Regions from separate parts of the Homo sapiens genome. Here region 2 is linked to region 1. A link means that fine-mapping ties the variant in region 1 to the expression of a gene that starts in the linked region. Tissue or cell type: whole blood. Region 1 holds a variant in brackets; the other region holds the start of a gene. All regions are shown on one strand. Distances are between the middles of the regions.

Region 1 (2,756 bases):
CTCCAGTCCTCAGACCTCAAGGTGTCAGTGAAACATGGTGGTCCCAGATGGGCTTCCCTCTGCGTGCAGTGAGCAGCCCGCTGAGCCTCACTGTCTCCACCCACGGCCTTAAAGTTTTTGTTATGTGAAATACAGCCTTCTAGAGATTCTAGGGGCAACATGGAATTCTTCCTACTGTGTTTATTTGATTATTTCAATAGGCATTTGTTGACAAAATGGGAGAGGGAATTGAATAGAGGGGGTTAGATCCCCACCTAGCACCAGGAGTCCCTTTTGTTTGTTTATAGAGATGGGAGGGGGGGTCTCACTATATTGCCTCAGGCTGGTCTTGAACTCCTGGGCTCAAGAATCCTCCCACCTCCGCCTCCTGAAGTGCTGGGATTACAGGCGTGAGCCACCGCACCCAGCCCCAGGAGTCCCTTTTGAATCAGGGTTGGGCACCAATTTGACCCATACTGAATACTTTAGGTGACTGTAACACAATGGTAAAAATTTGCATATATAAACAGATGTAAACATAGAAACATAGTAAAAATATGGTATCATAATCTCTTGGGACTACCACAGTATATGTGGTCTGGCATTGACTGAAATGTCATTACTCATGACGGTACTAAAATACAGTAGGTGTATTTGCCTGACATGGGGAAAGGAATAGAGAGCACAGTGCCCAGCCATCGCCCTGCGGGACATTCGTAAGCCGTTGGTATTACAAATTCTAGCCTTATCATCAGTGGGTCAGCTCACTTCAGTGCCCATTCATTGAAAAGCCTTAAAATTCGCTTCCTTCATTTGGGGTGTACTGAGCCCCTTCCCCAGAAAGGAGCGCTTGCGGGAAGTCTGGCACAGGTGACTAGGGCTGTGCGGTCAAGTAAGTGCACTTCTCCCACGGGGCAGGGGCCATGGGTGGGACCACATCTCCCCAGTACCTGGTGTGTGCTGCTCCCAGGGTCAGGGCACCTGGCAGTTGGAAAGACCGGCCGACCCCGAGGGATGGGCAGCACTGGAATGGTGGCTCCAGGGCCAGCACTCCCGGAGGAGGGACCGCCTGAGGAAAGGCAGGGAGGTGGGAAATCCCAGAACATGTTTGGGGAATGACAAGACATCTAGTTTGACTGGAGTATGGGGAAAAGGTGGGGCGTTGGGGAGACAGGTCTGGGGCCAGACTGCAGGGGTGGGAATTGGCTTGGTCTGGGAGGCAATGAGGGGCGAGTGGACGGGTCAGAGGCGGCGGCGCTTCCACCCCGACTGGCATTAGAGGGCGTGTCCTAGGAGAGGAGCATCCCCCTCCCCGGACCAGCCGCCCTCCGGAGCCCAGAGTCACCGGAGATGGGGGCACACCCCGGGGCTGCGTGTGTCGTGTCAGGCCGCGGCAGGGAGAGGCCGTCCCCTGGTGGCGCCGGCCGGAACGCCCCTCGTGCCGCGACCGCGCGCCCCTCTGTCCTCGCCGCGCGTCGGCGCAGAGCAGCCACCCGGGGCCCAGCAGGCGCGGGCTTCCCCACGCGCCCCGGGAAGGGACAGCTCGGTGTGGGGTCCGGGAGGCTTGAGCCCCGCGGCCGCATCCGGGGAGCCCTCGGCAGTCGCGGAGCTGCTTCCCAGGGGTGAGCTCTCCGGGAGGCCCACGGGGTGGCCCCGGGCGCCTCCGCCCTCAGCTGTCGC[T/G]CCTTATAAGGCGGGGGCCGGGCGGCGCCGGAGGAGGGGCCGCGGCATCAGCCCGGTCCTGGGCTCTGGGGCGGCGCTGGGCCGGGCGAGCGCAGTGCAGCGCAGCCGCGGGGAGCGAGGAGCGCGCGGAGCCGGCCATGGGCAAGTCAGGTGAGCCCGCGGGCTCGCCCGCTGCGGAATGGTTCGGAACCCCGCGCTCCCGGACCTCGCCGTCTCCCTCGTCCGCCGCAAGCCAGGTCCTGGGGAGTGCGGGAGCCCGGGGTGCGGGTGGAGGGCGCGCGGGCGGAGCGCCCCGGCGCGGTTTCCGGGGAACCCGGGGGGAAGGCGAGCCCGAGGGAGGCCCCCGCCGGAGAGCCGGGGATCGCGCCAAGTTGGGCTTCCCGACCCTGAGGGGCTGCGCGCCGCGGCCCGCCAAGGCGTGGCTTCTGCTTTGTTTCAGGAGGCCAGACTTAGAGTTGGAAAAGTCACCAAAGTGTGACAACAGCTCTCGCTGCGAAGCAGTTTGCCCCGCTCGGCTGTCCCGAGGACAGCCCTGAGCATCCCCCTCATCCATTTGTTGTTCCTTCTCTCCTGAGCGCCCGCGCCGTGCCGGGCTCCCCCTGTGCTAGGCTCGGTCTGGCTCCCTTTCTCCTGGGGCACCCCATCCTCTCTACTGTGGCTGTCGGGATGAACTTTCTGCAGCGCAGCTCTCCTCCTGTCGCTCCCTAACACCTTCCTCACCATTGTCCTCAGAGTGAAAGGACACACTCCAGTCCTGCCTTCGGGCCCCTGGGAGTGGGTCCCTAGCCCTTACCTCCGCCCTACACTAGAGCTGTCCAGAAGCTGGTGCACAGGTCCCTTCCCCTAGGTTTCCTTGCCGGGCCTTCACCACCCCAACTCTCAGCCTGAAAATCCCATCCCTCTAGGCTCAGCTCCTGGGCTGGAGCCCATCTGTGATTCCCCCCGGGAGGGAGCGCCCAACCTGGTGTTTTCCTCGCTGCAGCCCTTCCTGTAGTGGGCCGGGGACAAGAGTTCAGCCATAGACCTGTTTCCCACCGGGTCCTCACCCCTGGCTGCCAGGGGCCGTGTTTATCTCAGCATTGCTTCTGCCTCACAGG
Region 2 (2,620 bases), 100 kb before region 1:
TCTCAATTCATGAATCACCGCGTGCTGAAGTAAACTTTAAAATTTTATTGTGCCTCAGTTTACCTTGTACACAGAAGCAACAGAGTCATCAGAGGAGATGTTTTAGATATTTTAACTTATTCATGTTTTCCTTTTGTAAACTCGAAAGAGAGGATAAATGTAAGAGCCCAAAAACATAAAAACCAACTTTAATATATGGATTTTGTTTAGAACTTGAAAAATTGTAAAAAGAAATCATGAGACAATAAGAAAAATGTAAATAATGACTGGATATTTAATAATATTAAGGAATTTTAAAAATGTTTTAAGTAATTTAGCCCCAGGTGTCTTCATGAGAATTTAAAACGGTGGTCATGCTTTTTCAAAAAAGGAGGAAAAAGGGTTTAATTCAGGAACACACAGAGAAAAAAAGAGACAATGAATTAGCTTTGCTAGCCAGTGGCTTAAACATTCTCCACGTAGCTGCTGGGCTGATGGGTGGGGTGGGACCCACTTCCAACTTGTCTCTTGGACAAAGTCTATACTTCTCAGCCGGATATTCAAGGCTTTCCACATCTAGGTATACAAGCGTTCTCCTATCCTCTTTTCCTATCAGGAATAGGTGCTTAATAGTAACATCAAGGCCAGGCACAGTGGCTCACGCCTGCAATCCCCGTACTTTGGGAGGAGGAGGCTGGGGGATTGCTTGAGGCGAGGAGTTCGAGACCAGCTTGAGAAATATGGTGAAACCCCTTCTCTGCAAAAAAAATATAAAAATTAGCCAGGCGTGGTCACCTGCGCCCGTGGTCCCAGCTATTCAGGAGGCTGAGGTGGGAGGATCGCTTGAGCCCGGGAGGCGGAGGTTGCAGTGAGCCGAGATCGCGCCACTGCACCCCAGCTTGGGCGACAGAGCGACTCTTGCCTAAATAAATAAATAAATAATTTTTAAAGTACAACAAAGACACATTGAGGCTATAGTGCCAAAGAGCTCTAGTGATGAACCCTTGTCAGGGGGCCGTGTCTGCGGGAGGCCGAAGGATCCCGGGTGACATGCTTTCTTTGGGTGCGAGGCAGCGTCTCGGCAGAAAGAATATTGCGAGTATTACTGAGGGTACATGAAGGAGAGAAGCCCCTTTGGTTCGGCCTTGGACTAAGCCCTTGTTCTCAGGTGAACTTGCAGTGTGATCTTGAGTAAGGTCAGTCTCCTCTCTCACCTCAGTGGCCCGAAACCTCAGGAGGTGGCAGAGGTTTTCTAATGACTCTCCCAGCTCTGACATCCTCTGACTTCACTCTGGGAGAACGTGGGCTGGTGGACTCCTGGCAGAAGCCGACACACAGTTGGGCCATAACAAAGAGCCCTGGTACGGGGCACGTTCCCGCCCCCGGGAGGTTTTGGAAACACTGTGAGGCAGGGGGCGGGGCTTGAGCGGGCCGCAGCCAGTCACCAAAGGGCCGGGCGCTGGGGGCGGGGCCTCGCGCGAGCGGCGGCGGTAGCGGCGGCAGCGGCTGCGGCCAAGCTGGGTCCGAGCATCCCGCGGCTCTGGAGCCGCCCGGCCCGGACATGGCGACCGTCCGGGCCTCTCTGCGAGGTGCGCTGCTCCTTCTGCTGGCCGTGGCGGGGGTCGCGGAGGTGGCAGGGGGCCTGGCTCCGGGCAGTGCGGGTGAGTAACCTCCAGAGCAACGGTTCGAAGCTGTCGGGAGCGGCCGCCACAGCGCTCCAAGATGGCGCGGGGCAGGGGGCGGGGGTGCGCGCGACCCCCAGACCCTGCCCACGTCCGGCGACCCCGGGACCCCAGGTCTCAGCGCTCCAGAGGCTGGTGCCGAGGCGGGGCGAGTGAGGAACTCTCTCCGCCCCAAGATCTTCTGGGCGGTGACTCGGGTTTGAGGCCTTGGTCTGTCACCCACCGACACGGGCCCCCTCTTCGGCACTGACCCCTTCGCTTGCCTCTGCTGCTTGTCAGAAAAGGGTGCGATGCCCCCGCCCAGGATCGTCGCGAGGTTTAGATGGGATTTCGGATACGCAGCCGCCCTACCGCGGCCCTAGTTAGTTATTGTTACTTGTTACTTGACCCGCACTTGGTTCATAACGACCTTGGTGGCGGTGAGCACTGACGGTCCCCACAGCCCGCGTGGTGGGTCCTGGACTCGGGCAGGAGACATTAAAAATCAGTAAACCCTGTCCCCCGGGGGCTGGCAGGCTTGAGGAGAGAAATTCTTGCTCTACAAGAACTAAACCAAGGATGGATAGGAAACTGTTAAGTGCTTATTGATTGCTTCCCGCTTGCTGGCCTTTTGAGTGCACGCCGACTCCTTCCGTCCAAAAGCTCTCTCGGTAGGAGATGGGGTACAGCAGGAGATTGAAGTAACTCGAATTCAAGGCAGAAATGTCCAGAGGAAATGAAGGGCCATGTATGAGTGCACAGAGGGAGAGAGGACATCGACCTAGGATGAGTGGAAAGTGGAGTGATTCCCCCTAGCTGTACTAGACATTGAAAGATGGCTAGGACGTGTGCATGCAAAAGTGGTGAAGTGCATTGCTTACAGGGAGACAGGCAGAGACACCTTAAAAAAAAAAAAAAAAAAAGCAAAGTCAGCCGGGTGCGGTAGGCTCTCCCCTGTAATCCCAGCACTTTGGGAGGTG

What was found. PIP is the estimated chance that this variant, and not a neighbour inherited with it, causes the effect.
Region 2: RECK starts here. The variant in region 1 is fine-mapped to the expression of RECK in whole blood (INTERVAL, PIP 0.94).

Annotation. Positions count from the first base shown.
Region 1 is chr9:36,134,983-36,137,738 of GRCh38, forward strand. It overlaps GLIPR2 (GLI pathogenesis related 2), which reads left to right and starts at 1,751. Exons shown (of 5, transcript NM_022343.4): 1 at 1,751-1,809. The coding sequence starts at 1,797. RefSeq lists silencers at 1,403-1,972, 2,003-2,052. The variant T/G (reference allele first, on the strand shown) is at 1,660.
Region 2 is chr9:36,035,459-36,038,078 of GRCh38, forward strand. RECK (reversion inducing cysteine rich protein with kazal motifs) reads left to right here and starts at 1,455. Exons shown (of 21, transcript NM_021111.3): 1 at 1,455-1,640. The coding sequence starts at 1,541. RefSeq lists silencers at 1,375-1,574, 1,585-1,734.